Linked DNA regions of Homo sapiens. The protein of the gene in region 1 interacts with the protein of each later gene in a pairwise test. Each region holds a gene or a part of one and is shown on either strand. Other genes may lie near its edges. The genes, in order: ZMYM3 and RNASEH2B.

What was found.
Region 2: the proteins of ZMYM3 (region 1) and RNASEH2B interact in binary tests that used the Homo sapiens proteins (3 or more experiments, as listed by UniProt).

What each region holds. Positions count from the first base shown.
Region 1 is NC_000023.11:71,239,088-71,244,394, reverse strand, and holds the end of ZMYM3 (zinc finger MYM-type protein 3), read left to right. Parts: coding exon 1-93; intron 94-414; coding exon 415-566; intron 567-1,310; coding exon 1,311-1,425; intron 1,426-1,970; coding exon 1,971-2,225; intron 2,226-3,050; coding exon 3,051-3,168; intron 3,169-3,286; coding exon 3,287-3,479; 3' UTR 3,480-4,771; downstream 4,772-5,307. UniProt on the Homo sapiens protein: Plays a role in the regulation of cell morphology and cytoskeletal organization.
Region 2 is NC_000013.11:50,940,544-50,947,833, forward strand, and holds part of RNASEH2B (ribonuclease H2 subunit B), read left to right. Parts: intron 1-1,307; exon of another isoform or gene 1,308-1,483; coding exon of another isoform or gene 1,484-1,511; intron 1,512-2,777; coding exon 2,778-2,851; intron 2,852-4,883; coding exon 4,884-4,989; intron 4,990-7,290. UniProt on the Homo sapiens protein: Non catalytic subunit of RNase H2, an endonuclease that specifically degrades the RNA of RNA:DNA hybrids. Participates in DNA replication, possibly by mediating the removal of lagging-strand Okazaki fragment RNA primers during DNA replication.

The DNA.
Region 1 (5,307 bases):
ACTATTCATATGGTGTCAATGCTTGGAAGTGCTGGGTGCAGTCAAAATATGCCAATGGAGAAACCAGCAAGGGTGATGAGCTGCGCTTTGGCCGTAAGTACTTGGGGATGGGGGGTGTGGGGAGGCAGGGACAGGGAGGAGGAGGGGAAAGGGGAGAAGGGGCTGGGCCTGTGATTCAGCTGAAGATGTCTAGAAGTGATAAGGGTGTGATCCCTTAAGGATGCCCTGTGAAGATGGGGAGGAGTTGTAGATTAAAGGGAAATGCTGTCTAGGTTCCAGGTTAGGGGCTCTTTCTGTAATTGTTCAGGAGCTAGGCATGACTAAGGGATGGAGGGGTTAATGGTGATGGAGCTAAGTGAAATTCTCCATGTAGAGTTTTTCTTAATCCTGTCCCTGCACAACATATCACTGCAGCCAAACCCATGCGTATCAAAGAGGATATTCTCGCCTGCTCAGCTGCTGAGCTCAACTACGGTCTGGCCCAGTTTGTGAGAGAAATCACTCGGCCCAATGGTGAACGATATGAACCTGACAGTATCTACTATTTGTGTCTTGGCATCCAGCAGGTACCTCTTGTGCACCACCTCACTTCCTGTCACTCTTAACACAGCAGGCAGGGTCTAAACAGAAATGATTCTGGGTTAGGCACGGTGGCTCACGCCTGTAATCCCAACACTTTGGGAGGCTGAGGCAGGAGGATCGCTTCAAGCCAGGAGTTTGAGACCAGCCTGGGCAACAAAGTGATACCCATCTACCCAAAAAATATTTTTTTAATGAAAAAAAAAAGCAGTTATTCTGTTGCACTCCCTGTTCCTCATCTTGTCCCCTACCTGAAGCAGGCAGCTTGCCTTTAATCTCCTACTCCAAATAGAACATGAGATATCAATACTCTTCTAAAATCAAAACTGCATTCCAGGACCGTTGGCCAAGGAGCAGTCTTCATTGCTATCCAGGTCCCCTTTGTAATCTTTAAGCCCATTCTAGGAGGGGAGGGATGGGTGGAGCTGGGATCCTTGAGTGCTGGGGTAATGTTTAGTTCCCCCTGGGAGAAGTCAACCATGTATTACCTGAGAAGGAGGTGTGGGCTTCTAAAGAACATCTCCTCCAAGCCTCCTCCTCTTCGAGCAAAGCCTGAGTAGCGCAGAGCTGTGGGTATACCTGGGGGAAAGCACTCGAGGCCACCTAATCAAGCAACTGTTTCCCATCGTCTCCTAATGATCAAGGACACCATACCTGGGGGCTTCAGCATCATTATCTTTCTTCTAGGACCTACAGTCTAGCCTTAGGTGTGTCTGTTTTTCTTTCCCCAGTACTTGCTGGAAAATAACCGGATGGTGAACATTTTCACGGACCTTTACTACCTGACTTTTGTTCAAGAACTCAACAAGTCTCTGAGTACCTGGCAGCCCACACTCCTCCCCAACAGTAAGGAACAGGGACGTAGCAACCCCTACCCGCTTTCTCCATTCTTCCAATCCACCATCCCGAGAGTCCTGTGCTGTTTGGTCTGCCACTCTTCACAAAGGGCCCGAGGGCAGGAGCGTGTAGCTGGATGCCTCAGGGTTTAGAGTTAAAGGAGCACAGGAGCGCCTGTTCTTGAACGTGAGATGGGGATCAAGACTTAGGTCTGAAGAGCTATCTCTAGGACCAGAAAAAGATGGCCTGGGTTTGGGTGGTAAGTAAAGAAAGAAAGCAAGAAATCGTGGGACTCCTCAAGGTTTACATTTACTTGTCTACAACTTGAGGGTGGTGAGAGGCGTTCCAAATGCAGGTGTGGAAAGTATATATTTTTTAAAGCCCAGTCCCACTGTGTAGTGTAGCAAGTGTAGCGAAGTGACAGTGTTTTATATACAAAGGTTACTCACCAAATGAGAATTGTGTGGGAAATGAGCAGGGCACATGGGATGGGAAGTGGTTGGGTTTGGGTAGCCACTCCCTCCTGACTGGCCTCTCCCCCTTGACCATTGTAGATACGGTGTTCTCTCGAGTGGAGGAGGAGCACCTCTGGGAGTGTAAGCAACTGGGGGTCTACTCGCCCTTTGTCCTCCTCAACACCCTCATGTTCTTCAACACTAAGTTTTTTGGGCTGCAGACAGCTGAGGAACACATGCAACTCTCCTTCACCAATGTGGTGCGGCAGTCCCGCAAGTGTACCACCCCTCGGGGCACCACCAAGGTGGTGAGCATCCGCTACTATGCCCCAGTCCGCCAGAGGAAAGGGCGAGGTACGAGGCTGCCCCCTCCCCTGTGCTTTTGCCCCTTCTCTGCCTTCCCCTTCCATGCCCTGCCATAACCCACCATACCTGCCAGGTCGGCCCTCTCCTTGGCGCCTAGCTTCCCTCTCCTGTTCCTGTGTGCAGAAAGGGTAGAAACAGCCAGTCCTCCTACCTGATAGGCAGTAGCTGTTGCATAAATAAGAGGTCACCCTCTGGCCTGTTTCCCCTCTTTCCTCATTTAAGACAGTTTACTTGCTTGCCTGCTTTTTCTGGGTGGTGGACAGGTAGGAAACCATTGGGTGTGTTTGGCTGTCGGGGAGGGTAGAATGACAGGCTTTCTGTGATTCTTTGCTATCGGGTCTAACAACAACTGCACCTTGGTTTCCATTTTTTCTGTCCCTGGACTTCTGTCCTGTCTGAGTGAAGTTTCCAAGGTCCTTTCTCTGGACCCATGCTTCTACCTGGACTAATGCACAAGGGGTTGGGGTCATTGCTGTTTCTCTATCCCAGAAGGCAAGCCCACCCTTGCAGTAGGGTCTGTTTTATCAGGTCTTTTGAATAACTTCTGAGATCACCTCTTCAAGATAGCAACTTGGGGGAGATTTTAAAGAGAGTCTTTGGCAGTGGGAACTGGGGAGGGTTGCATAACAACAGCCCGACAGGATGTTGGGTTGGCGTGGGAGAGGGAGACTGACCTCTTCTTCCACCTCTCCATCTTGATGAGACTGTAATTTGTGTCGTGACGCCTTCTCCCTGTGCCCTGAACTGTGCTCTTGGATGTGGCTCATGGAGCCTGTGTTCTTAATGAGTCTGAATCATTTCCCTCCCCTATAGACACGGGTCCTGGAAAACGGAAGAGAGAAGATGAAGCCCCTATCTTAGAGCAGCGTGAGAACCGCATGAATCCCCTCCGCTGCCCTGTCAAGTTCTATGAATTCTATCTCTCAAAATGGTGAGTTGGTGGGTTGGCAGGAAAAGCGTTAGCATGGGGACCCGAGGGATCTACTTTGCCTTGGTACTGATCTTCTGTCCTGCCACCCCCACTCCCACTCCCACCCCCGATGTTGCAGTCCTGAAAGCCTCCGGACTCGCAACGATGTGTTCTACCTGCAACCTGAACGGTCCTGCATCGCCGAGTCACCTCTCTGGTATTCTGTGATCCCCATGGACCGCAGCATGTTGGAGAGCATGCTCAATCGCATCCTGGCTGTGCGCGAGATTTATGAGGAACTGGGTCGTCCTGGGGAGGAAGACCTGGACTGAGCTCGTGTGCCATCCATATCCATCTTTCACATCAATGTCTGTCCTGTGGCCATGTCCCTCAGGGTGACAGGCCCAGGAACCAATGCTACTCATTCTGAAGGGCCCTGACTGCTCCTTTCCGCTCACCCATTCCCTGCCTTCTCTAGGAACCCTGGCTTTTATCTTCTTCCGTACCACTTGACAACCATGGGGCCCTGGTCTTCTGTACTCAGGGGCTGGTCTCCCAGTGATGGGCAAAAGCCAGCTTGCCCGTTTTCTTTATGCTTCAGAGTAAACCCCTCCTTCTGGGTCCAGACTCTGGGTGGAGTGTTAATAGCTCTGGTGATCCTGTTGGCTTTGGGTTTCCTGACCCATCCCGCATAGGTAGAGCCTCTTGTTCCTAGGCATGACCTAGGGAAAAACCCAGCTGCCTTCTCTGCCCTGTGCCCACTCCCTTCTCTACTCTTCCCCAGCACCATGCCAAAAGGTCTTATCTGAAAGGTAAGAAATAAACAATGAAAGCGATGAGGGGACCATTTACATAAAACACAGAGCTTAGACACTCTTCCCCTCCTATGAAATAATTGGTTGTTGGCACCATCTCACCACCGCATATCCCTCACCCCCTCGGCAAGCACCAATCCTTGGTGCTGCCGTTTTTAAAATCTTCCAAATGCCTTTTTTTCCTCAGAGGCAGAGAATGACTAAGTACGGGGAGCAGACTCCTGTTGTGCAGACTCCTGTCCCCTTGGTTTCTGTGTTTGTCTCTCTGCCATCTTAGGTTGCCATGAGCCATGGTGTCAACATGCTTAGCCCCCTCTGTAACTGCCTCCCTTTAGTTCAATGGACAGACCTCCCAAGGCAAAAACTACCTTCTGACTTGGGTTGAGGCTGGGTTCCCCTCTATTGTTCCCCTATCATAAGAGCTAGGCCAAGCCTATGGGACCTTGAGTCATGCAGGATGGGATCTGTGGTCAAAGGACAGGCGAGGAGCTGTGGGCGCAGGGCCTGCCGCCACTGCCTACATCTTCTCTCTTCCCCATCTTGCATTGGAGGTCCCAGAAAACAATTAGCTTCTGGCAAAGGGGGTACCCACTTCTTTCCCTGTTGACTTTGCTGTTTCCCAGGCTCCTTTTTGTGTTTTTATAACTGTCACCAGTTAGCCACTGTTTAAATTGTATATATTGTTCTGAGGCGCCTGGCCTGTCCCTTCAGTGAGCCATGCCCACCCTTGTGTTGTAGTGAGAAGCTGTTGTCACGACTAACCTTCTGTCTCTGAAATTGTTTGTTTCAAATAAAGAGTTAAAATTGTCTTTTGTCTTTTCTGGGTGATGGATATAGAGGAGCAACACTGGATAACTTCAAATCTCTCCAAGTGTAAACAAGTCAGGTGTTTGAGAATCGTTCTTACTTTACTGTCTTACTTTGGATCTACTGGGAATGTGGTGTTTTTTTTGTTTTTTTTGTTTTTGTTTTTGTTTTTTTTTTATAACAAGTTTCCAAACACTTAAGGAAAAAAAAATACTCACTCACTAGCTATGTATTAAGGACCTATTATGTTTAAAGACCTAGATTACGTGCTTCAAAAAATACAAAAAGACTGGTTAGACCAGGATCCAATCCCCAGCAGGCTCCCAGGCTATAGGGGAGACCAAATAGTACACAATTAGTCATAATACAGGCAGAATAAAATGAATAGTGCTATGGGAGGACAGAGGAATAAATAACTCACTTCAGGTTTACAGGGAGGCTGGGTGCAGTGGCTTGCGTCTGTAATCCCAGTACTTTGGGAGGCCAAGGTGGGAGGATTCCTTGAACCCAGGAGTTCAAGACTAGCCTGGGCAACATG
Region 2 (7,290 bases), on another chromosome or scaffold:
CATGGGATGGAGAGATGGAATGTGGGAGGCAAGGCCAGTGTGAGCACTGGCTCTGAGGTTTAGGCCTCGATATTCAGGAGAGTGGTGTAGGAGGAAGATGAACCACTGGGTTTTAGACACATGGAGGCTTAGTTCAGGGCTTTGGGCCTCCCGGTTAGTTTGTTTAGTCTTGTTGATCTAGGAGGAGATCACACCAGATGAAAGGATACAGTTGACTTTGGAGGAGGGTGAAGCAGAGCTGGGAAAAGAATCAGATAAGTCATTAGAGACATAAAAAAATAGAAAGCAATTTTATATATGCCATGGAGGAGAGGTTGTTAGGAGGTACTGAGGAAAGTGCAGACCTAGTGATCTTGGTAAAGTGAACATCAGATCCACAGCTTTGATGTCAGCATGGTTGGGAGTTGGGTGCTCTTGCCTACTTCCTCAGTGACTTAGGAGAGTTTACTTCATGTCACTCAGAGCCAGTCTTCGAAGATGGGGACAAATCATGGTTTATTAATTGATTCTGAGATTCATTCTGATCATTCAATAAGAAAATGTATAAAATGTGCCTAGCACAGACCTGAATAAACATTAGTTTCTTATGTTTTATTAACAAATCATATTTTTCATCACAATATCTTAGCTAATATTATGTATTTGCTAAGTGGCAGGTGTTGTGCTCTAGGATTTGTATGGATTATCACATTTCATGCTCAGAATAGCCCAGTGAGAAAAAAACCTCTCTTTACACATGGGGGAACAGGCTTTGAGCACGAGGCGGCTTCCCAAGGAGACAGCATGTGCTGGGGTATGCATGAGCCCTGGTAGCATGGCTCAGTCTGTGCTCTCTGCCCCTTCTTAGAGAATAATTCCCAGAGGTAGAGGAGAAGCCTCCTAGTGGGGCTCAGGGAGTGGGAGACAGGAAGGAAAACAGCAGCAGATGGTAGACATTCTTTGAGAAAATTTGGAGGTAGAGGCAAGAAAGAAGTGAGATGCCAGATCAGGGTAGGATTTTCAGGAGAACCTTGAGCAGTGAGCTTCTTTTGGAGTTTTTTTTTCCTCAGGCAATGAACATAACTTCTAAAAGCCATTCAGCGTCATATATTTATTTAGTGATTGCTGTATGCTCTTAAAATTCCCCTGGTTTGTACATCGGTTGGGACATGGGCTCCAGGGAAATTGAGTCCGGTCTCATTGGCTTTGGCTTACAGTAGGCTGTTTGCCCAGGTAGTCCTGGCTCCAAAACAGCAGACATTGCACCTTGGAATTCTGACACTCCTGACAATGCTTTTGCACCTGTCCCTCTTTTTTGTTACTGTAGTGACATGTCCTGAGAAGATGGCTGCAGATGTCCAGCCCCCAATCCATCCTGCCTCATCTTGCCTGCAGCATTGACAACCATAGGCTGAAACAGAGAGGAAATTCACAGGAACTAAGGCCAGGGACCTCCCAACCTCTCTCCCATACAGTTTAACAGACTGCAGAAAATGAACCCTGAATGGGCAGTTTTCATTTCCCATCAAAAGGTGGGAGGGAGAAAGAGCCTCATTCTATATAACTCAGAGGTGGTAAATTCACATCAGGCCCAAGGGTTGCTAGTGGTCATAAAGATAAATCCTGCATGGACAGAGGAGGCTGGAATAGAAGTGCTGCCCTTGCTAATTGCACAGACAGAAGAAATCCCATGAATGAAAAGGGTTGCAGAGGAAATCATGGTTTAATGTCATGGTATATAAGGCTGGGTGGATTGTGGGGAAGTTAAGTGTAATTTATAAGAGGTGAAACTTTTATCTCCATAAAGGGCCAGATTGAGCCTACCATAAATCTAAATCTTCTCAAATAGCTATGATTATGTTGGTAATATGTTAAAAGATAGATAGATCTTTTTTTAATGCTCCCCCAATCCCCAATACCAGGCCACTACTGAGTAGTTAACAAGATTTTTTTCCTGAATGTATGTAGTGAACTTCATAGATACCTGCATTTCGTTTCAATTTTCTTTATTGGGATTTTCATTTTTATTTTAAGAAAAAAAGTGGTTCATTGAAAACATTGAGGTGAGCTTAAAATTATTCAGAACAGTTAAGACTGCTTAGTATGCTAATGTGAACACAAAATATCTGAGACAGGTCTCAGTCAATTTAGGAAAGTTTATTTTACCAAAGTTAAAGATGCACCCATGACACAGCCTCAGGAAGTCCTGAGACATGTGCCCCACGGTGGTTGGGGGTACAGTTTGCTTTTATGTATTTCAGGGAGACATGAGACATCAATCAATATGTGTAAGATGTACATTGGTTTAGTCCAGTAAGGCAGCAACAACTCAAAGTGGGGGTTTCCACGTTAGACATAGATAGGAGACAAAAGGTGGCATTCTTTTGATCAGCCTTCCACTGAATACACAATGTAGTCTGGCTTGAGTGTGGAGCCATTGCTAGGGACCGGCCCTCTTCTGCCCAGAATTTCCCTGCCTCCTGTCCCTATCAACAAGATTATTTTCCTTTCACATTAGTTTGCTGAGGTTTTAAAATTACCTTTTCTACAGAGTTGTTTGTATAATTTGAAGGTTTTCTTAAATTCTTACTCATTTAGTGGTTGATGACTCCTGAGGTAGCCACATTACTACTAACATTTAAAAAAACATTTCAAGTATGTTCTCAGGTTTGTAAATTAAGCTTTTCAAGAATTTAAACTTACAAAATATTCTTTAAATGGTTAACTTGTATATGATACAACCTTAGGAGTTTATTTTTTTTTTAATTCATTGTGCTGAGTCTTTTTTTTCTTTTAAGGTAATCCAGAAATAGACAACAAGAAATATTACAAGTACAGCAAAGAGAAGACATTAAAGTGGCTGGAAAAAAAGGTATAGTTCCTCTCTAGTGCCTTGTGGTAAAAGTAAAAATTCAGTTCTCTAAGAAATTTTCAGAGAAGGCAGTAAGTCTGAATCCAGAGACCATCTTGTATATTCAGTGAAAAGAGGAAAATTGTGTAGAGATACCAAGTATGAGAAGAAGGCTTTGACTTTTTAATCCTCCCTAACTTCTGTATCTCTGAAGTTAGCTTTATGTTTTCTTGTGACCTGCATTCTCGTTTCTCCCTGCTCCTACTACGGAATGAAATAATTTGTTGGTGTAGATTTGAGTCTTCCAAGTAAGAGGATACCAGGCTTGGCACTTGTTGGCCACTGTCAGTCCTGCAGGTGTCTCCAAGGGTGATGCTTACACACAGCCAGGCAAAGGGACCCAGGGACACAGCCAGGCAAAGGTGTTCAGGTTTAGAGGAAGTATGTCCTGCTCTCAGGGTCTGGACACTGATGAGGGGTCATCTTACAGGCAAACCCTGTATCTTAGTGATTCTAAGAATCTTGACCTAATGGATGGACTGGGGCAGTGAATTTCAAATCAATTTAGTAGGTAACAACCAGTATTTCTCTTGGAATGAAACAGATTGTGATGGGATGGGACGGGACAGGACGGGATGGGATGGGACGGGACGGACGGGACGTGATGGGACGGGACGGGATGGGATGGGACGGGATGGGATGGGATGGGTTAAAATATAGCAGAGGAAGGGCAGGTATTAAGTATGGCTCTGTGAAATGTATTTATATGTGTTTAAGTATTGGGTTGCTGTATATTTCTTACTATGGGTTGTGATAAAAAAAAAACTTTGAAAGCCACTGGTCTAAGGATAATATGTACTTTCACATTGATTAAGAATCTCGCTAAACCATATAGAATAATGATAAAGTTTTTGCAAGATCAGTGGATACCAGTAGTTGTAGTACTGTTTCCTAAGATTCTCTTCCATCTTTTGTGTGAAAAGTCATGTTTGTCTGCATGTTCTCTCTCATAAGTGGGAGTTGAACAGTAAGAACACATGAACACAGGGAGGGGAACATCACACACCGGGGCTGTTTCGGGGGTTAGGGGCAAGAGGAGGGAGAGCATTAGGACAAATATGTAATACATGTGGGGCTTAAAACCTAGATGATGGGTTGATGGGTGCAGCAAACCACTGTGGTACATGTATACCTGTATGACAAACCTGCATGTTCTGCACATGTATCCCAGAACTTAAAGTATAATAAATAAAAATAAATAATAATAAATAATAAATAAATTGTGTTTATTTGTCATACCATGTTACCAGGCTCATTGAAAGCCTGGGAAGCTGGAAATGAGTCCAGTAGAATAATCAGTCTCCTAATGTGCAAAGTAGTGGAAAGATTTAGAGTGCCATGTTTCATTTTTTATTTGTGATATAGTAGTAGTAGTATTCCATGTAGGCGAAGAATGAGAATAAATGCGGAGCAGAATCCTTGATGTTTACTTTTGCTCTTAGCCAAGGAAAATGACATGAATAGCGAAGAGGAGTTTATACTTACTGATTATATTTCCTAGGAAGTGGGAAATTTATATTATTCTATTTAGGAAGTTATTACATATAAATTTTGTGCCAGGTTCTATTGTAAGGGCTTTATTTACATATATTACCTCATTTAATTTTCACAGTAGTCTTATGAGGTGAATGCTATTTTTTTCCCCCATTTCACAGATAGAGCCACAGAAAGGTTAAGTAACTAGCCGTGGTTACAGAGCCAAGCCCAGCAGCCTGACTCCAGAGTCAGCTCTCAGTTATCACAATATGTTGCCTTCTCATATTGTGTAGGCCATGGAAGTCCATGTATTGAGATCATCCAGATATTGCTGCCACTCAGCCTTTCTTCAAATGGGCAACCATTTCTCATCTTCTGGTGTCTGGTGAAGATACTTCTAGGTTCTCAAATACTTCTTTGCAGATCTCTTAAATGGTCTGAAGGCCACCTATGAATTCATAGATTTCTAAAGTTAAGTTGAAAATACCCTGCCTTTCCCCTCTTGGTTGCTTCATAGGTTAATCAAACTGTGGCAGCATTAAAAACCAATAATGTGAATGTCAGTTCCCGGGTACAGTCAACTGCATTTTTCTCTGGTGACCAAGCTTCCACTGACAAGGAAGGTAAGTAAAGCATTTTATCAGAAAAGATTTTTGTCTGGAGTAAGTTGCTTATGTGTAAATGCCTATCTTAGGATTTAAAAATCTTAATATCACAGAAGCCTCATATTCCTACCAATGCCTCATACACATTGTGGCAGGTGTGCATCTTATTTCAGAAGCGAAGAATATTTCTACCATAGGTTACTTCTGTCATTCATTGATACTTAAGTTATTTATTCAGCAAATATTTCTTTTACATTGATAGTAGTAACAACCCTGGCTATCATTTATTGAGGGTGTATTGTGTGCCAGGCCCTTTGCTAAGTTGCCACTATACAAACATGATCTCATCCAACCCTCCCAGTAAATTTCATAATGAGCATCTTGAGGCCCTGTGCAAAGTCTCACAACTAGTAAATGCCAAAGCTGAGCTACTTATGGAGCTTGTCTCTGAAGCCCACACTTGTAATCTTTTTGTGATACTGTTCCTGTGGCACAGTTGTACTGTTCCAGTGGCTGCATCTGTTTGCATTTTCTTCTCAAGATGCATGTTTCCTGATACAGGGATCAATATATTTTGATTTTAGATGAAAATTGATTTACTTGGCAATTTTTCTTTTAGGTTATTCTTTTATAATCTAAAAAAGGTATATTATTTTCTTTTCCAAGTAGAGTCCTCTTATTTTTATATGTATAGTTGAATAAGAACAGCTATATAATGCAGTTAACAATCTCAAATGGTGAGACAGAAATTATTCTGACGTTAAACTCCAATTCATTGTTCCCTTATTCAGGGTATACATATGGCTTTAGTCATTACATAAATAAAAACTAGGAATAGTGGCCTGTTTGTGATTGATAGTAATTCAGGCAATCTGATTTGCAGGAATCTACCTTGCATGTATAGGTAGTTGGCTACTGCCATTCTGGGAGTGGTGGACAGCACCTTTGCCATACTGAGTTACCAGCTGTCAGTGTCTTTAATTGGCTTTAACAATAGAAGATGAGGGATTGAGATAGATGATTAATGGATAGATAGGTGGGTGGATAGATGCATCCATGGATGGATGGATGGAACCATAGATTTTGTTTTAAAAGTAGGAGAAGGGATGTTAGAGGTTATTTAGACAGATCATCTCATTTTTTAAATGGAGAGGTAGGTAACTTATCCTCAAGATCTTCTGTTCTAAGTCTAGTGCTTTTACCAGTACTCTACATATTAAGGTTCTGGGCTTGGCTATATTGCCATTTAGTGTCCTGACCATAAAGTAAACTTTACATATTTTACATTATTTCATTTTTTAGATATTTAGGTTGGTTTGGTACCAGAAGCAGCAAATGAACTATATGTTGACTTTCTTAAAATAGTTTTCTTGGTCTAGTCATGACTCATTGGATAATGACTATCCCAGATCCATGAGCAATTTTAAGAAGGGTCAAATGATAACTTTCAGTTCTCCATTGACAATGAAAATCTCTTACTGAAGACTTTTTGACATCAGGTGGTCCCCAGACGGCAGTCATTTTCTATGTAATACTGAGGCAAATTGTTACTTTGACTTGAGAGCAGAGGAGAATGGAAAAAAGGAAGTGAGTGAATATCCCAGCAGCAAACCTGGGGTCTGCTTTTGGTGCTTTATATCCCCACGTGGTTATCCCATCTTATGATTAAGTTTGATTATCTGCTTGTATTCTACATAAAATACTGAATTCAGGAACAGAGTTTTGAAACATTTTATTGTCTTCTTATGTAACTGTATTTCTAATTGCTGCCAGAGCTGCATTTTAGTACTGAGAATCCAAATGCTTTAGAATTAATGATGATAAATTCTGCTGAGTTAGTTGTTTAAGTTTAAGTATTTTATTAGTTTGGGAGTGTGTGTGTGTGTGTGTGTGTGTGTGTGTGTGTGTGTATGTAGAACTATGTATATAGAACAATATGTATGTATAGAACTATATATATATATTTCAGGGTTCTTATAAAGCAAATACCTAGTAGTAGAGACATGGTATTTTATTTCTCTTAAATGAGTACACTCATTACTGTTGAATAATTAGATTTATTCTTTATTGAAGCAGGCTTAGAAAAGATTACCCTTTTAAAAAAGACATGACTATTTCATATTGTTGTAGATGATTTTTAAACTTTATTTGTATTCAGTGGTTTCAAATAAGAAAGCAACCCTGAGTTTTTGTTTTTAATGTCATTTAGGGAGCATCTACTGTATTATACTTGTTTTATCTTATATCTTTGGTATCATCACATGTCATATCTCATCCCTCATATCTTCCCACTAGTCTGACCGATAGATATTACTATCC